3 linked regions of the Homo sapiens genome follow. The protein of the gene in region 1 interacts with the protein of each later gene in a biochemical or structural test. Each region holds a gene or a part of one and is shown in the gene's direction. Other genes may lie near its edges. The genes, in order: TRIP12, OTUD5 and SOX6.

Region 1 (7,116 bases):
ATTGTATTTATGTTATCTAGACAAGGTTTTAATATCCTGCTTTATTTTAAGGTTTTCATCTTAGCAAGGAAAACATCACTGGCTTGGAAATTCACACACTACCAGTTAGTAGCTTTGTGACCTTGAGCTAGTCACTTAACCTATCTGGTCTTCATTTATTTTATCTGTAAAATGGGAGTGGGTAATCTCTATTTTACCTCACTGGGTGGTTGTGAGACCCAACAGATGTAATGACTGAAAAAAAACAACATGCTAAATAAATTAATTTTAGAAAATTACATGAGCTGTTTTGAGGTCATTTTTAAAAGATACAGCTTCTCATTAGTCGTGGTGGTCCATGGGGCAGGGGAGAATTAATGTAAACTAGGTTGAAGGTACAGAGTTATAGAACTTCATAATTTGAAATTGCTGCTTAATTGGTAGTAGAATTTGGGTCTCATTTTTGTCTTTTTAAAGTTACCTTCTTTTTTTGGTATCAGCATGCCAGATACTTGTTTGCCATACATTCTACTGAAAAAACTTGTTAATATGTTTAAAGAAACTTCAAATTCATTTACGTTTTTTATTGACAAAGTACCTGTTCTGGTTTGTGACTCTAATGAAATTGACTTAATGTAAGAGATTACAATTAGGGAATAATGCTTCTGAATCTTGGTCACTGTTTTCTTTACAGAACCTAGGGAACTTTCCCCCCTTTTAAGTGGATGGGTAGGGATCTTTTTGAGCAAATGTGATACCAGTTGCTCCTTTATTTTTTTGTTTGCTATTTGATGGACTCAAGTCAAAACAGCAACCTACTTGGTTTTTTAATCTTCACTGAAATCATTCCTTGCAATTGCCTGTTTGACATGGACTTTTCCCTCATTTAAATCAAGCAAGCACCCACTATGTACAGAAAAACATAGAAGATAAAGGATGTGAAGAACAACTTACAACTCATGTCTTCAGATCACTTCCTCGAACAAGTTTCTACCTGTGATCTTTGTATTTCTGATTAACTGTACTTGCTTCGTTTCTGCATTACAGTATTGCATTTGTTGACATGTGTTGCTTTTGTTTCCCTGATTGGACTGTAGGCTTCCTGAGGGCAAGGATGATTTCATGTCAATGTGGTATGTGTGAAGGTATACTAATAAACCTGATTGGTCTGGGTGAGGTGGCACTGGAGGTGAGGACGTGGGAGGATCGCTTGAGGCTAGGAGTTGTAGCCCAGGCAACATAGTGAGACTGTCTCCACAAAAAAGAAAAAAAAAGTTAGCTGGGCATGGTGGCATGCATCAGTAGTTCTAGGCAACTTTGGAGGCTGAAGCGGAAGTATTGCTTGAACCCAGAGATTTGAAGTTAATAGTTATGATCATGCCACTGGACTCCAACCTGCTTGGAAGGGTTCTTTGACCCCAGCAGATTCTTCAGAATGCTTTCTCTTGGTTGGTTCAGTGATCAGGGCCTCTTCACATCTCCCCTGACTAACGTGCCATTAGAGTGCCTGGATGGATATCAACTGTCACTGCCATGTTTTAGTGTTAAGCCAGTGGATTATTCTGTGCCACTTTTTTCATAGGCCAAGCTTTAGTTAATAAGGCCAAGCCTGAGGAGAGTCCAGGCCAGATAGGGTGGAAGAGTAAAAATCTGGTGGATGTTACAGAATAAATATAATTTTTAGATTGTTGTATATAATCTTAGTGCTTGGTAATTTTTTTTTTTTTTTTTTTTTTTTTTTTTTTTTTTTTTTGAGACAGAGTCTCGCTCTGTTGCCCAGGGTGGAGTGCAATGGCGCGATCTTGGCTCACTGCAGGCTCCGCCTCCAGGGTTCATGCCATTCTCTTGCCTCAGCCTCCCGAGTAGCTGGGACTACAGGTGCCAGCCACCACGCCCAGCTAATTTTTTTGTATTTTTAGTAGAGATGGGGTTTCACCTTGTTAGCCAGGATGGTCTTGATTTCCTGACCTCGTGATCCACCCGCCTTGGACTCCCAAAGTGCTGGGATTACAGGCGTGAGCCACCGCGCCCGGCCAGTGCTTGGTAATTCTTAACGTGTAGTGTAATGTAAGCTTTACTTGTGTATTTTCTTTTGGTACTTGTGTATCATTTCAGCAGCTGTGTTACAGACTTGAAGACATAACCTCAAAGCAGTTGTTCTCTACCTCTCTGCTGGGTTTCTCTGTGCATAATGGATGCTTGCTGTTATTTGTAATAAATAGATAAGTATACCGATGCTAGACCTGTCCCTTGATTTTTCTTTTTTTTTTTTTAAGTAAAATTTAACTCTGCTAATGTCTTGGGTTTTTTAAAAATGTAGTTCTTTAATATCCTAACTTACTGATAGTTTTAGGTTATTGGCAAAAAGAGGTTTCCTAGACTGAAATAAGTCTGTTCAGTCATTTTTCTCTGAGGCCTTTTAGATTTTGGTTGTTTATTGTGATTTCAGTGATTTCATTAAACTGAATTGGATAGAAGAAAAAGGAACTTACCCATTATTCAGGCTTACCTGCTTTGTCTTGAGAGTGCAGAAGCTATTGGCAGTAGTCAGTTTCATGGTTATGCTTGTTCGTTTGTTGAGACAGAGTCTCACTTTTGTCACCCAGGCTGGAGTGCAGTGGCGCGATCTCGGCTCACTGCAACCTCCACCTTCCAGGTTCAAGTGATTCTCCTGCCTCAGCCTCCCAAATACTGGGATCACAGACGGGCACCTCCACACTTGGCTATCATGGTTATGCTTGATTTAAAAAGTCATTCAAATGGTCTAGAGTGAAAAATACCTGCTACTGTGTGTTTTCCTTAATAGCACTGTTCAAGTGATTATCTGATTTGAAGGCAAGACTTAGGTTCCAATCCTGGCTATGCATTTCCCATCTTTGTAACCTTGGGCAAATAATTTAACTTAGTACTTTGTGAGCTTCAAGTGCCTAATCTGAAAAATTTGATTATTACCACCTAATGTAGAGTCAGTTGTCATTTATATGCTAGACATTCTGTATTTAGATTAGGCTCCACAGATGAATTGGAACACAAGGCCCTTTCTCCACTTGTTTACAGTACTGTGGACCATTGCCTCATTTGTTAAAACTCTTTTAACTCGAACATACCTCTGTTATATGCATAGGTATCCTACTTGAAACATTTGACCCAGTGGCTCATGCCTGTAATTCCAGAACTTTGGGAGGCTGAGGCAGGAGGATCACTTGAGCCCAGGAGTTTGAGACTAGCCTGAGCAACTTAGTAGAGACCTTGTTGCTACTAAAAGTAAAAAATTAGCTGGGCATGGTGGCACATGCCTGTAGTCTTCAGCTACCTGGGAGGCTGAGGTGAGAGGATTGCTTGAGCCTGGGAGATGGAAGCTGTGCTGAGCTGTAATTGTGCCACTGCACTCCAGCCTGGGTGACCGTGAGACCCTGTCTCAAAAAATTTTTTTTTTTTTTTAGTATACAATAGTATTCCTTAGTTGATTATGAATTCTTTAAAGTCTTTAGCCCTCACCCTTTTTTTAACTTTTATAAGGACACTAATCCCAAGTAGTGTCCCTTTTTATCTCTGCATCTAGCACAGTAGCTGGCCCATGATAGGGATTAAGCGTTTGTTGACAGAATAAGTCTTGTGAAAATAAAATAAGATACTGTAAGTGGAAATATTTTGTAATGGCTTAATGTCCTATTTTTAAAATTTTGATTCTTATTTTGCATCGTTAATGCTAAAATGACTTTGAGACTTTTAGTCAGTATATATTTTGGAGACTGCAAGTTACTTTAAATCATACATTTTAAAAAGAATTAGGGCAAGCCATTTTGTTACTCTTTAATTGACCATTATGTGCATGTAATAGTTGATAAAGTACATTGAGGACCTAAATAAGTTTTTTTTTTGAGATTGAGTTTCGCTGTGTTGTCCAGATTGGAGTGCAGTGGCGCAATCTTGGCTCACTTGTAACCTCTGCCTCCCGGGTTCAAGCAATCCTCCTGCCTCAGCCTCCCGAGTAGCCGGGATACAGGTGCCTGCCACCACACCCAGCTAATTTTTTGTATTTTTAGTAGAGACAGGTTTCACTCTGTTGGCCAGGCTGGTCTTGAACTCCTGACCTCACGTGATACACCCGCCTTGGTCTCCCAAAGTGCTGGTATTACAAGAATGAACCACTGTGCCTGGCCAATATGTTTTAATGCAGTGCTAAATGATTAGTGTTTCCAATTTATAATAGTATACATCATTGTAGTTTATTCTGTTTGTTTCTTTTTAGAGAGCATGTACATATTTCTATAAATATGGTGTTATTACCCATACATGGATTTTTGAAGGCTATTTATAAGCCTAAGTGTCCATCAACAAGCCTTCAAGACTTGAAGTTACAGCATTTCAGTGTGTATTTTAATCAACTTGTTGGCTGTCATAACCAATGAGTTCTACCCTGACTTCAAAACTCCTACTCACTCTAGCCGTGGGCAGTGCTCTGAATAAATAGATGTACCTTGTGCTGTGTTCTTAAGGTCAGATGAACTTAATTTAAAGATTTTATACTGGTAAACATGTGCGATGCCCTGGAAACCTAAAGTGAGTTTTCACAGTAGCCCATCTCTTGAAATTCTCTCTTCAGTTGTAATTTAAGCTACTTTGTGTCCTTAGAGAGCAGGTTCATAGAGATCATATGAATGTCCCCTACTTTTTTTGATTCTCAAAAACCAAGTGCTTCTAGTAGCCTTGTAAATAGGAAATATATGCAAATGCTGTCAACTTCTCAGACCCCAGTGTTTCGTAATTCTGTTTTACATCCTTGGCTGCAATCAGATTGAACTGTTTCTTCCTCTCTGAACACACCCAGCAACTTTTTAGCATTTTTGCTTTGGTTTTTTGTCTACTTGAATTGACACCCCCTCTCACATCTTGTATCTATTATTTTTATTATTATTTTTATTTTTTGAGGCAGAGTTTTGCTTTGCCGCCCAGGCTGGAGTGCAGTGGTGCGATCCCGACTCACTGCAGCCTCCACCTCCACCTCCTTGGTTCAAGCGATTCCCTGCCTCAGCCTCCTGAGTAGCTGGGATTGTAGACTGGTCTCCAACTCCTGACCTCAGGCAATCCACCCACCTCGGCTTCCCAAAGTGCTGGGATTACAAGTGTGAGCCACCGCGCCTGGCCTGTATCTCTTAGAAATATATATACTTACACTTAACTTTCTTCCAGTGACTCCTTTAAAATTTTTACTCCTTACTCTCCTATTCTCCTTCTGTAACATATTTCAGGATGACTTTCACGTTCTGTCTTACATAATTAGTTGTTTACATTTTAACTTAACTGGGTTTTTGGCCTCTTCAAGGTAGAGATCTCATTCTTTTATCTTCACAGTGTCTAGCACAAGGCTTCCAACATAATGCATTGTACATGGTAGGTGTACGTGGTAGTGTGTTCTGGTGTGACACATTGAGAAACGATGTTGTGAAATAATATTAGCATCGTTTGCCATAATTTACTTGCTTGTTTTCATTTTTCAGGGGTTGGCAGCTGAGTGTAGAATATAAATTTTTCAAAATTAGGCTCATTAAAATCAGCTACTTAAGGAATTGTTAAGACCCTAGAATATTTTAGTTAGTTGGTTACCCCAAATTTAGCATTTGGAGATGATGTTTATTAGTAGATGATGATTTATTTATCAATACATATTTATCAAGTGCTTACTGTGTGCCACAATTGTGCTTGACAGAATATAAAAGGGACCTGAAACTTATTCCTTGTCTTCCAAGTTCTGTTATGTTTCATATAGTTGATATTTATCTTATTCCATCACAGCTTATTTGTCTAAAACTGTATATAGGAGTATAGTATTTAGCATAGAGAAATATTCTGTAAAATTCTAAATGTAGATTTTCTGCATTTAGAAAATCTGATATTAGAATGTAAATTAAGAAACATGAATTAGGGCATGATTTGTGGCTATACTAAATAAATTGTTGAAGCATCTTCATTTACAAATATTCAGCCAGGTGCTGTGGCTCATGCCTGTAATTCCAACCCCTAGGGAGGCTGAGGCAGGAGGATGATTTGAGCCCAGGAGTTCAGGACCAACCTAGGCAACACAGCAAGACATCATCTCTACTAAAAATAAAAAATTAGCCTGATGTGGTGGTGCATGCCTGTAGCCCCAGCTACTTGGGAGGATTGCTTGAACCCAGGAAGTTGAGGCTGCAGTGCGTCATGCCACTGCACTCCAGTCTAGGCCACAGAGTGAGACTCTGTCTCAAAAAACAAAAACAAATACTCATCAGCAGCTAATGTGAGTGCATATCTGGTTCCATACAAGATCTGCCCTCTTAGAGGGTGCTGAAAAAGAAGAGATTTATAAAAGGAGATTCCTTATCTTGAAATGTACTTTGTTGTAGATGAGTTGAAACTTACGACTACAGCACACAACATCTAACATTGTGCATATTTGTTATTAAGTACAAGATCGAGTTTTATACAGTGGGTACTTGGAAGTTTAGAGAGGTTCAGTTCTGGGTTGAAGTTACTTAGGAAGACTATGAAGAGAGAGGGGCTTAAACTGGCCCTGATTGTTTGGAGGAAGATATAGAAGAATGGGGAGCTTAAAGGTGTAATTGTGGTGAGGATCTAATATTAAGGTAAATGGGCTCTCTGGAGTAGAGGGTCCATATATATGAAATAACAGGAAATTGGGCTGAGATTATTGAAGTTCTTAAATGGGAGATCACGGAATTAGATTTAACAGATTATGTTGAATGATTGTTGATCCCTGAATAGGTGATGTGAAAAAGGTGTACAAAAATATTTATGAATGAACTGAAAACAAAAATAAAAGTGCTTTTAGATGTCATTTTTTATGACAGTGCTTCCCTTTCTGATACTACATATAAAAGTTTTTGTATTAAGTTTTGGAGGAGATAGAAGTAGTGAAGGTAAAACTTCTTGTTTTTTCCTGTTGTTTAAAATGTTAAATAAGCAGAAGCTGGTTTATTGTCTAAATGACCCACACCAGTCCTCTGTTGGACACAGAAGTCTTCCTTTAGTGGAAGCTATCAGTCATTTTGTCTCAGCACATTCAACTGTTGTTTGTTCAGATTTTTTGTAATTCAAAATACTTTTTGATACCTAATGCATGATTTTTTGTGAGTT
Region 2 (5,200 bases), on another chromosome or scaffold:
GCTTCTTTAAATTAAGGCCCAGGGCCAGGTGCAGTGGCTCACACCTATAATCCCAGCACTTTGGGAGGCCGAGTCGGGTGGATCACCTGAGGTCAGGAGTTCAAGGCCAGCCTGGCCAACATGGTGAAACCCCATTTCTACTAAAAATACAAAAAAGTTAGCCGGGGGTGGTGGCACTCACCTGTAATCCCAGCTACTTGGGAGGCTGAGGCTGGAGAATCCCTTGAACCTGGGAGGCGGAGGTTGCAGTGAGCCGAGATTACCCCACTGCACTCCAGCCTGGGCGACAGAGCGATACTTCGTCTCAGAAAAAAAAAAAAAAATAAGTCCCAGGTTGGAAGGCACCTGACTGCTCCAGTCTCAGTGCCTCAGTTGAGGTGGTTTGGGGGTTAGAGTCAGGTCTTACAAGCATAGGAGTTTGGAATGACAGGTCCCACATCCCAAGCCTGCTTTCCCTTGGTCCCCAATCAAGAGGTAGTCTGTGGAGTGTTGCTCTTTGGGAGTACCTGCTTTCCTGTCTCCTTTTTTTTCTGGGGCCTGTGGGCCTACCTCGCTGAGCCTGTTCTGGCTCTTGGGCAGGTTCAGTGTGTTATTGCACATCCCTGTTCCTCTCCCTCCTTGCAGTTTGCAGAGCAGTCTCTGATGAAGAATGCCATAAAAACATCGGAGGAGTCATGGATTGAACAGCAGATGCTAGAAGACAAGAAACGGGCCACAGACTGGGAGGCCACAAATGAAGCCATCGAGGAGCAGGTGGCTCGGGAATCCTACCTGCAGTGGTTGCGGGATCAGGAGAAACAGGCTCGCCAGGTCCGAGGCCCCAGCCAGGTGGGTCATGGACTCTGTCACAGGCTTGGCCAAAAACTCATTACTTCTCATGCTTTGCCCTCAAGCGAGCAGAAAAAAATTAAGCAGTTTTGACATCTGGGAGGGAAGGAAGCATCCAGCACCATCTGTAACTCATCTTGGTCTTAGTTTTGGCATTGTACCTTGGAACTTTAAATACTTGTGCAGAACAGGCACTTAAGGAGTGAGAGGAGGGCAGCCATGCTGCTGGTGACACGAGAATAATGGATAGCTTCAGAGACACAAGCTTTTGTTGACTGCCCTTGTGTGCCAGGTCTCTACTGAGAATGTAACATCAGATCTGGACTACTCTGCCCTCAACGATCTCGTCTGTTGGCAGAGACAACTCAATGGTGGGGTCCTTGACCCTGACTGGGAGATCAGTGGAGGTGGGGGCTCCGGTTAGTCTTCACAGAGGAAGGTTGAATTGTTAGGGGAGCGGGGAGGGGCGGGGCAGACAAGCATCTGAGGAATTGTAAAATCGCAAGGAGTTTGGAGTGATTGTAGATGTTGGCTGGCAGGAGCTGAGTTTTTTTTTTTTTTTTTTTTTGGAGACAGAGTCTTGCTCTGTCGCCCAGGCTGGAGTGCAGTGGCGCAGTCTCGGCTCACTGCAAGCTCCGCCTCCCAGGTTGATGCCATTCTCCTGCCTCAGCCTGCGGAGTAACTAGGACTACAGGCGCCCACCACCACGCCTGGCTAATTTTTTGTATTTTTAGTAGAGACGGGGTTTCACCGTGTTAGCCAGGATGGTCTCCATCTCCTGACCTCGTGATCCGACCACCTCGGCCTCCCAAAGTGCTGGGATTACAGGCGTGAGCCACCGCACCCGGCTGAAGGAGCTGAGTTTTATTCCACAAATACCTACTACCAGTCTGTGGCAGGCCCTGTTTTCAGTATATGGGGATACATAGGTGAGCCCAGCAGACCAAGATCCCCGTCCTTGTGATGTTCACAGTTTTGCAGAGTGAAATAAAATAATAAATATAATGAATAAATTAGTTGGGAAGTGCTATGGATGGAAAGTGTAGAGCCAGGATAAAGGGGCTGAGCAGGAATGTGCGTTCACGGTATGAAATAGCGCAGTCAGGGTAGGCCTCAGAGCAGGTGAGATTTGAGCCTTGCAGAAGGTGAGAGTTAGCTGAGCGCACATGGAGGGGAGGACAGCAGGCCCACACACCTGGTACAACTCAGGCACAGCCCAGAGGGAGGCCGGTGTATCCGAACAGAATGTAGTAGTAGATGAAGTCAGAGAGGTTGTGGGTCCAATTGGGTAGGGGCTTGTGGGCTGTGGCGAGGACTTTGGCATTTACTCTCAGAGAGGCAGAAACCATGGGAGGATTGTGAGCAGAGGACGGACAGGATGTGGTTGGGGATTTAATAAGATCGCCTTGCCTGCTAGTCATCCAGTGGAGTCTGGTGAGTGAGGGCAGAAGCAGGGGCCAGTGAGGAGGAGGCTACTGCAGTAGGCCAGGTGACTGGTGGCCAGTGCTGGCAGTGGAGTTGGTGAGAAGGGGTTGGATTTGAGATCTATTTTCAAGATAGAGGTAACAGGGTTTCCTGTCAGATTGGCTGTAGGGGTGTGAGAGAAAGGGTAAGGAGCTCCACCTCTGTCCTGTGAGGAGTCTTGTGGTCCACCGTGTGAGTGGGGATGATGTTGACCTACATAGAAGCTGTATCATAGCCAAGGTCCTGGGAAGGGAGCCAGCATTCAGGGATGGGTCACAAGAAGGTCATGGCTGCTGGTGGTCCTTAACGCATTTACCTTCCCCGCTGCAGCCCCGGAAAGCCAGCGCCACATGCAGTTCGGCCACAGCAGCAGCCTCCAGTGGCCTGGAGGAGTGGACTAGCCGGTCCCCGCGGCAGCGGAGTTCAGCCTCGTCACCTGAGCACCCTGAGCTGCATGCTGAATTGGGCATGAAGCCCCCTTCCCCAGGCACTGTTTTAGCTCTTGCCAAACCTCCTTCGCCCTGTGCGCCAGGTCAGTGACTTGCCCACAGGGAATGTGCTGGGAGTTAGGAGGCACGTCCTGGGTCCTGGGTCCTGGATCCTGGGTCCCTACCTTTGACTGTCCGTCTGCTTCAGGTACAAGCAGTCAGTTCTCGGCAGGGGCCGACCGGGCAACTTCCCCCCTTGTGTCCCTCTACCCTGCTTTGGAGTGCCGGGCCCTCATTCAGCAGATGTCCCCCTCTGCCTTTGGTAAGCCTCCTTTGTCTGGGGGGATGGAGGCTGCTAGGAGCTGGGAGAGACTGGAAGAAGTGGCAAGTCCTGAGAGGGGCTTTCTGGAGCCTCTGGCCATCTCCCCAAGAAAAGAAGGGAGAGGCACTGGAGGGGATTTTTCAGATCCAAGGAATTTGCCCCAGAAGGGTCTGGGGTCTAAGTGGGGTTTCACAGGCCTAGCAGATCCTTCTGTTTTGAGAAAGGAGTGAGAAGGGCCCTATGGGATTTCTCCAGAGCCCCAGATGTCGGCACAGGGTGAGGAGAAGGCAGGCTGAGAGCGCTCCATCATCCTTTTCCTCTTCCTCTCGCCCAGCAGGTCTGAATGACTGGGATGATGATGAGATCCTAGCTTCGGTGCTGGCAGTGTCCCAACAGGAATACCTAGACAGTATGAAGAAAAACAAAGTGCACAGAGACCCGCCCCCAGACAAGAGTTGATGGAGACCCAGGGATTGGACACCATCTCCCAACCCCAGTACTCCTGCTCTCCGGTGCCACCTCACCTTCTTTGGCTTCTTCCCTCTTGCCTCCTTCTGTTCTTTCTGCTCTCCCCTCTTTTCCCTCCTCCTCACTTCCCTCTGGCTAGCCCACCCCTGCACTCTCTCTCATTGCCGCTGCCACTATCACCTGTCTCTCTGCCAGCTGATGTGCCCTGTTGCCCCCCACCCCATCCCGCACAGAACCATCCCTGCATTCCACAGGGGACTCGGGCAAGGGTGCCGAAGATAGACAAGAGGCACACAGAGACAGACCAACTGGCAGCCAGGCAGCCCCAGAGGAGAGAGACATTCAGACAGAGGAAAGTCTCCCTGCCCCTCATTCCTTCCAAGATGAGAAAAACTTGCCGCCACCCCCCGACACTGATGCCAGGGAGGTGGGAGGAAGAAGTGGGAAATTTCCCTTCCCAGTACCCCCAAGAACGTCTGAGCCTTCAATGTTGAATTTTTTCTTTATTAAAATTACTTTTATCTTATAAAATCAACTAATCAAAAATGATATAGACGACAGCACTGGCTCTGTGAAGGTGGCATCTTTCTGGGCAGGCAGGCCATGGGGCATGGAGGAGGGTGCAAAGATATGGGTTGCTGTCTTCTGGCCTCCAGCTGCATGGAGGCCGGCCCAGGGTCTAGGGTGTGCACTGGGCAAGGGCAGGGCGGCAGGTGTCAGGCCGGCTTGGACAATGAAACCCTGACCTTGCTGCATTCCTTTTGCTTCCACCACCACTAGCTTCTTTGGAATCTTGGGGTGGGGGTCATCTTTGGGGATTATGGCTGCCACCCGGGATTTGAGTGTAGGGAGTGTGGGAGCAGCCTTGGCAGATGGGGCACCCGTGCCCTGCAGGTGTTGACAAGATCCGCCATCTGTAATGTCCTTGGCACAATAAAACCAAATGTCAGTTTCCCTGAGCGACTCTGTTCTGTGTGGGGCAGGGGTTGGGCGGGCCTCTGGGCAGAGGATGCAATGGCACGGACCTTGGCTTGACCTCAGAGGTGTGAATGCTCTCCAGCAGGGTCTGTCTGGGGGCCTGGAGTTTGTATTTGATTTGCTGCTTATTAAACCTCCTTCTGGACCTATTGCCACTGGAAAAGCTGCGTCTTTGCCTGCTGACCCCACCCCTGCCTACCCTATTTCCTGGGGGGGGGGGGGTGATGGTAGCAGAGGACTGTGAGCTTGAACTTCCTGCCTGAATTCCAGCTTCTCCGCCTGCCTCTCACCATGAATGCTGCTCTTTCCTTATCATGATCTGATGAAGAAAAGCCTTGGAAAAGTGCAACTGATACTTTGTAGCAACATGAGTTTAGTGGAAGTAACCAGAGGGGCCTCACCCACTAGGTTTTAGAAGGTGAAGGACGGCTAAACCCTTTTTTGTTCTTGTCCCCCAGTCTGACACCTCTTTGCCTGTCCTCCCTAGGGGTAAATCCAAGGTAAAGAAGGCTGGCTGGCCCCCAGGTTTTCTCAAGCAGCTTTTTCACCATGCCATGATAATGGAGACCCTCTGACAGGATGTGTGTCTGGTTCTGCAGTTGAGGGCATGGCTAGCTGAGTGGCTGTCTGCGGAGTGTGTCTGGAACCCAGTGGCCAAGCATCTATTTGTTGTAGAGTTGCTTTGAAACCTTCCTGGCCCTGGTCAATTGCT
Region 3 (7,602 bases), on another chromosome or scaffold:
AGGGAGAGTTAGCTGTTGCTAATATTATTTTTGAAAACTTCTTCTTCTTCTTCTTTTTTTTTTTTGAGATGGAGTCTTGCTCTTTTGCCCAGACTGGAGTGCAGTGGTGTGATTTTGGCTCACTTCAAGCTCTGCCTCCCGGGTTCACGCCATTCTCCTGCCTCAGCCTCCCGAGTAGCTGGGACTACAGGTGCCTGCCACCATGCCCGGCCAACTTTTTGTATTTTTAGTAGAGACGGGGTTTCACCATGTTAGCCAGGATGGTCTCGATCTCCTGACCTTGTGATCTGCCCGCCTCAGCCTCCCAAAGTCCTGGGATTACAGGCGTGAGCCACTGTGCCTGGCCAAAAACTTCTTACTATTAGAGTATATTGGAGTCATTCAACGCATTATTTATTAAGCCCTACTATATACTTAGGTTTCTGCCAGTTATCTTGGGGGATACAATGTATTATGACACAATTCTTGTCCCCTTCTAGAGGCTGAGTAGTATAAGATATGTTTGGGCAGTACATCTTGCCTGAGGAGCCTGCTACAGGCACTATGGAGTTGACTGGGGATATGGAACATAAACATATAGGAGGAAACAAATACATATCTATTTTGATCCAATTAAATGAATGTTACACAAGTAATCGTGATAGGAATGCAATGGTGAACTAATATTTTGTGGACAGGCTTCTGGAAGAAGTAAGATATTAGCTGAGCCTTGAAGGTAGAGTCTGGAAATGTAGAGATGGGGAAGAGTTCTGTAGGGAAGGAAAGAATCAGAATATATACACATCATAATGTAGTGGAAAGGGTGCATCCAAACAGACTAGGCATCACCACCCAAACTCTGGTGATGCCTCTTACTAGTTGTACAACTTTAGATCAGCTACTCAGTCTCCCTTCTCTTCTGTGAAATGGGGGACAATGATATTTACTTTTTAAGATTATTGTAGGTCTTAGACATAGCCTGTGCAAAGCAGCTAGGATAGTTTTTGACACATGGTTAACATTCAGTAACTGATATCATTAGAAGTATAGTGTAAAAGTTAAAAGCATGGGATTTGGAGTCAGACAGGACTCACTTGAATCTCTTCTCTCTCATTTACTTTGTAACCATAGTCAAATTACTTAACCACTTCTAAGCCTCACTTAGCTCATCTGCAAATGGGGATAAATTGGTAGCTTTGTTGTGGGGTTGTTTTGAGATTTAATGAGGTACTGTGAAGCATAAAGTAATGAGCTTGTCGCATAGTATGCACTCAGTACCATTAGCCATTAGGTTGTTATTTTTATTAGTATAACTTCTCTCTTCTTCTTTGATATTTCCTTTGTGATTATTCATATTATTTCCTCCTCTTCGTTCCCTACTCGCTTCATCTACCTTCTTTCAACAACATTTATCAGTGGCATTTGTAGAGACTTAAAATGGAGACTTGAAAGAACGTAGAGGTAGAGAGGAACTGGTCAGTATCACATGTCGAGCAGAACACCAAGGACAAGATAAGAAAAGGACAGGTAGGCACAGATAAATACAAATGACAGGAGCATAAACATATATACAACCTTTTGGATGAGTCATCCTTCCTAAGGCCACTGGAGATTTTTTTTTCATAAGGGAAATTCAGACCTACTACTCCCTATGTTAATCCAATGATTTCCTATTTCCCAGAGGATAAAACCCAAACTATTTTGAATTGCATTTGAAATCCTTTCCAATCTGTTGTCATTCTGTCCTACTAGATATTTTTCCTGCTACTTCCCACCATGCACTCCATAGTTCAGTCACTTCAAAGTTCTTCCTCTTCTTGGAATGTAACCATATTCTTTTATAAGTCTCAGCCCTTGCACATCTTGGAATGTCCTTTTTTTTTTTAGTTCCACCAGACAAACTTCTCGTTCTGAGGACCCGGTTAAGTGAGTCTTCTGTAATGTCTCTGATCCCTCCAAAATGAGGTATTTGTTCCTTCTTCTGGGCTCCTACAATATATCTCTCTAGTACCTGGTTTCTTATCCTATCACTTTTCAATGGTTTATTTTCCATTTATATTTCTTGCTAGACTGTGGACTATGGGAAGTTGCTGTCTTATTTATATGCCTCTGTATGTCTGTCTGGCAGTCAGTATGGTACTTGACACAGTGCAGGTAGTCAGTAAATATTTGTAGGCTAAATAAAAGAGGTAGTAGACACAGAACTGGCAACTTCTCTGGTTCACAAGCCAATTTTAGTATTTCTCCTATTAGGATTGCCTTAGAGTCATAGGCTAATAAAATTTCAGTGTTAGAAACATACCTCATTTTACAGATAAAGAATTGAGGCCAGAGAAAAGGGATTTTCTTTTCTTTCTCTTTCAGGTCAAACCATGATTCTGTTTCCTTCAGAACACTGTGGCAAAATATCTACTACTTGAAAGGAAGCTTATTGAGAAAAATCCTGCTAATTTCTTTCCCTCTTATGGCCTGTCTTCCAGATAATTTCTCCAAACACTTCTTATTTAGGTGTTCTTTCTAGACCAGTAATTGGGGCATAAGTTGATGCTCTGCCACATGAATCGATGTGCATATATGTATATTTTAGTCATGTTGTGTTCTGTTCAGCTGCTAGATGTTCAAACCAACTGGGTTTCCCCTTAGTTACCCTGTTTGTTTGCTGTAACACTTTCCTGTTGGTAGAACTATTTGTTCTTTCATAATAAAATTGAGAATTTTCTTGTAAAATATATTTTTAAGGTAAAACAATGTAATGATTTGTCCTGGCATTCTATAATTTTGAAAGTCGTTGATGGCAGGAGAATGGCAGAGTGGAAGGATGTCTCCTAGTTATAGTTTTATTAGTAATGTGCTGATGTTTAATGGTTTATCAGGACTGAATTTATTTGAAAAGAAAACCATCTAATGTGGTCAGAGTCATCTTTTGTTCACTATGGCTCTGGCCCTTTTTGGGGAGTAAATCAGCTTTTTATGTATACATTCTGCATGGGAGCTGTAATAAGTGAGCACATGTTGCAAATGCTGTGACCTTCAGTCAACTAGAGAAAGATACCTCTTCTAATCAAAGGCAAAAGCCACGATCTTTCTTGTTGTAACTTACTGTTGACACAAGAAAGGCCAGAGAGATTGACATCAATCTCTATAGAAACCATTAACCAATGCTGAATAAATCTGCAGCATTGAATCCATATGCATGCTTGCTTTTATTATTCTTGACCTATGGGCACACTTCAGCATTTTGTGGGCTTTGTTTTAAAAGGAATGTTTAAAATGTAGCTAGTTATTATGGGATTTCGTTGGTGAAATAAATTGTTTGGGTAGTCTAAATAAAAGAATCCGTATTATTTTGCATCTACTAAGCATTATTTGTTTAGGTGTGGCTTGGTTTGATTCCAGATTAACACACAGCGAAGGCTGTCACTTTAGCTGGGTGTAGCAAAAACCAAGTAGTTTTATACATGTTTTCCAAATGATGTGCAAGCAATGTGTCATTTGATTCTAATTGTGACTTTATTGGCTTGTGGTCCCTCTTTTTTATTCTTTAAAGCATTAACAATGACTGTGTTGGCTGAAAAGACATACGTCTTTAAGAATTCCATGGATGCCCAAAACTCAGTTGGTTATAAGTACTAACAATTGCCGACCGTACGCATAGCAGAAATAGGCTCTGTAAATCAGAGCTTCAGTGCTCTGGGCCCCTCTTCCTTAATTCTCCCGCACAGAAATCGTATTTCTAGTTGAGGAGGGTGAGAAAACAAAAATGCTTTTCATTTCATTCTGTGCTGTACATTTTCCAGTCTGGGTGACTAAAGCTGGCCAGGGTGCCTATTTTTGGAAAGAGGAATTAAGATACTTTGGAGAAAGTAGTGCACTGTGTGCTGACATTCCAGATGGCCAAACTATAGTAGTACCAAGCCCAAGTTTTTGAGCCTTTCGTGCCAATGATGACCTCATGAGGTCCAGCCTGGAGAAATAGAGACATAGTTCTCCAACAATGATGAAGAATGGCTTCTTCCTTTCATATTTCTATTGAGTGATCTCCAGTGTCCTCCTCTTTTCCTGTCTCTGACAAAATTAGCCTTTTATAATTAACAATTGTTAGTTTTTTGGCTTGTCTTTCAGACTTCTCTTAGAGTCCCTTTCACCCCATCTACTTATTGTATCCTCTCTACCAAACAGAAAAACTTGTGATATTTTTCTCTTTGGCATTCCTGTCTTTTCCTAGCAGGCTTTTTTAATGGGGACTGTGGGAGATTTTACACTTGATTTGTTGAATCTGAACTCTTTGCTGTAAACTCTCACCACACAGAAGAAACTATCTTTATAAATGACAGAATGGACCTGGCCTGAATGGCGCTTTGTTTACTGTTTTCCTAAAAGGGGCCCCTCTATATTTCATCTGTCAAAGTTGCTTTTCTTTCTTTCAACAATGCTTGATTGTTTTCACAAAAATTCAGGTTCCATAGACAGGAGAATTCTGTATTATATTTTCCTGCCAAATTCCGATCTCTGTTTTCCTTCCCCTGTGCTCACAAAGGGCTCATAACTTACTGTCAACTGTGAGGCAAACCACAAAGCTCCACTGTTGCTCAGCAAATAGGCTCTATTGGATGATGGCTTGACTAGCTTGTAAAGTTTGCTTAACTGTAGCAGCAGTGGCAGAAGGTATGTGGGGTACTGTATCTCCCAACAGGCCAAGAGATTTCACTTCTTTCATTTACTTTTATGTTTTTAACTCCTTTAATTGTTGAACAAAGTTAACAGTGTTTTGTTTAGCAAATTAGATGTTGCTTAAAGTTATGGCTACAATTGGTAGCCTGAGACTTGGCAGAGATTAATTAGCTGTGGGGTTGGGTTTTTTTTTTTTTTGGTTGGCAGTCAGAGGTTTCTTGTGATTTGGGAAGGTGTCAAAGGTGTTATGCCCTCAAGTTCTGAAGTTCTGGCTGATGTGGTAAGAGAAAGCCGGATTGAAGAGTGGAAGAGCAGCCACTTCATGTGAGTGATTTGTGCTTCCTTTAGCTGTCACAGGTCTTGGCTGTATTACTTTACCTTTTAATTTTTCTAACTTCAAAGCCTACCTGATTGGGTGGGATGATGGCTTGTTAAGAAAAGCTTATGTTATGGTAATAAGGTAATAACTTGAAAAGCATTTTTGCATGACATTTGTAATCTTGCTAGGGAATTGCAACAGACTATTTAAAAACAGATTTGGTTTTCCTGAGGGTTGAATATGCATACCTTTATTTGTAGCATCTCGTAGATTTTTAACATGTGATTATTTTTTCTGTATAATCTAAGGTCCTGAGTACTATTATCTATGAGGAATCATAGATTCCCTACATGAATCTTTTCAATAAAATCAATCTTTCCAATATACACGGCTAGTTTCTAATATATGCTGCATCTGATAAGGTATTTTATGCACTATGGTAAAAGATGTTTTTACTAATGAAAATATTTAATCATAATAAACATTTCAAAGAAACACAACTGACAAGCAGACCACTGGGTAATTGCTGATGTGTTTTTAGTAAAAACTTAAAATTATTAATGTTCATAAGCTGCTATAACTAAGCAAGACTGGTATTACATTGAGATTTATAGTATTTAATGCTATAACTATGTATTGAAAGTATTATTTATATAAAACTATAGTAAATTAAATTGATGATTGGCAAGTGCATTAAAAATAGTGCTTTATCAATGCTTTTCAATTTACTCCTTTTTATTCTGCGATACATTTCTTTTGAATTTTTCTGAGTAACACACACCTTGAATTTGTTTTCCATCATGCCTGTCAAAGTTCAAAATATTAATTTGTTTCTTTCCTTATCCAGCTTTCCTAGATACCTTATTGTTTGTGAGTTTGGTCTTTAGGCAAGTTTATCTTGATGATGGAACTTTCAGCTTCAAATTGTGGAAATAGTGATCTCAAACTACACATGGAATAGTGTGTCATTGTTCTAAGCTGTGGTACAGTTAATAATACCTATTTTGTGATAATGAATTGACCAGAATACCAAACAGTTAGTCTAGCAAATCTATGACTCCTCAAGTTGATTTTCTAAAGTGAATTGTGAGAGGAGAATTTTAAGGTAAGCTGCTTTCAATCAGCTCATGAGAATGTGCTGGGGTTCTTTAGCACACTAGTAGCAACTTGATTTTAGACCTGATTTAGAAATAAAAAAAAATTGTGTGAAACAAGTAACATTTTGGAACATTTAGTGTTGGGCCAGGGGACAAGAAAATAATCAGGCTTTGAAAGGTATTCATGTATTTCATAGGATAGGGTAGCTCAGACTTTTTATTTATTGTCAAGTTAATTTAAGCTCTGGTAGCAATTTTAGTATACTGCAAGGCTGCTTCTGTTTAAAAATTAATTCTGAGCAAATGGGTTACAGTCTCCAAATACTTGGACCGTTTTAGTTGAAAATCAAGGAAAGAGGTTAATAATAGGTGGTTTGAATAGGCACCTACAGCTCAGGACTCTATTGTCCTTAGGAATACAGTTATCAGCAGCAGATGCTGTAGGCTTTGGTCTTCCCTGTGTAAAAAGTGATTCCCTCCTGTCCATACCCCTTTTGAGAAACAGTAACAATATATTTTTACCCTGTGCTTTTTATTTTCTTGGCATGGTTCTTGTCATTAGTTCACTCAGCACTGGGTCACGAGTATATTGGGACTGGAAAACTTATATTCCGTGGAATTTTTATTTATTGTGATGTGTAAAAATTCAGAATCTTTTTCTTTAAGGATTTTTATTTGTTTTTGTTTGAGTCAAACCATTTTTCTGTCAAGTTTTCTTTAAAGAAAGTTAGCATTTGTTTCATAACTACCAAATACCAGGTATTTGCACATATATCAAATTAATCTCTTCACAACAACTTTTCAAGGAAGATGTGTTGTCCCTAATTTTATAGATGGGTACATAGAGACTCAGAGAGTTAAGTAACTTCTGAAGTTCACAGACATAGTAAATGAGATTTAAGTCTTTCCTCTAAACCTTTCCATTATACTGTACTTTTCCTTCTGGCAATAGATCCTGGTAAGACTGGTAGCAAGCAGTTTTCCAGTTCTAGGCACCATGGATGCAAATAAAGTATTACTTTTGAAGAAATCTAAAAAGCTGGTAGATTAGGCATGATAAATGTAAAAGTTTTTCAGGGGACTACTCAATTTTGGGAAATCGTGAGGTGGAGGTGGTGGTTATATGAGAAGAAAGAACAGGACCAGATAAATAATGCAGGATTCTTTCCTATAACTAACACCACAGCTTGGGAAAACCAGAAATTCTGTACCTTGGTAGGTGTGCAAATATGTACTTGGTAAAGAATCCCTTAAGTATGCAAGACAGCAGGTAGTCATACTTGTCTTTTATAATGATAACTCAAACAATTCTGTGCAATGATTCATGGAAACAATTGGATTCTCATGTTCTCCTGGAGCTGTTTATGATAATTCCAGCAAATGCAAGTGAGAAATTTAAAGCAAATAGCTATAAGAAAGGGAGGAGGTGGTGGAAGTACAGAGGGAGAAATACAAGATAGCAGCACTTTAGTTATTTGTGAAACCAGACTGTTTGGTGTGTATAAAAAAATGTGGAAATTTGGGTTGGTGGTAAAA

Evidence for each region.
Region 2: of the proteins of TRIP12 (region 1) and OTUD5, one has a biochemical effect on the other in vitro, tested with the Homo sapiens proteins (one study listed by BioGRID).
Region 3: of the proteins of TRIP12 (region 1) and SOX6, one has a biochemical effect on the other in vitro, tested with the Homo sapiens proteins (one study listed by BioGRID).

Annotation. Positions count from the first base shown.
Region 1 is NC_000002.12:229,911,997-229,919,112, reverse strand, and holds part of TRIP12 (E3 ubiquitin-protein ligase TRIP12), read left to right. Parts: intron 1-7,116. UniProt on the Homo sapiens protein: E3 ubiquitin-protein ligase involved in ubiquitin fusion degradation (UFD) pathway and regulation of DNA repair.
Region 2 is NC_000023.11:48,921,475-48,926,674, reverse strand, and holds the end of OTUD5 (OTU domain-containing protein 5), read left to right. Parts: intron 1-624; coding exon 625-828; intron 829-2,622; coding exon 2,623-2,824; intron 2,825-2,928; coding exon 2,929-3,042; intron 3,043-3,376; coding exon of another isoform or gene 3,377-3,379; coding exon 3,380-3,501; 3' UTR 3,502-4,651; downstream 4,652-5,200. UniProt on the Homo sapiens protein: Deubiquitinating enzyme that functions as a negative regulator of the innate immune system. Has peptidase activity towards 'Lys-48'- and 'Lys-63'-linked polyubiquitin chains. Can also cleave 'Lys-11'-linked ubiquitin chains (in vitro).
Region 3 is NC_000011.10:16,353,466-16,361,067, reverse strand, and holds the start of SOX6 (transcription factor SOX-6), read left to right. Parts: upstream 1-4,521; 5' UTR 4,522-4,974; intron 4,975-7,602. UniProt on the Homo sapiens protein: Transcription factor that plays a key role in several developmental processes, including neurogenesis, chondrocytes differentiation and cartilage formation.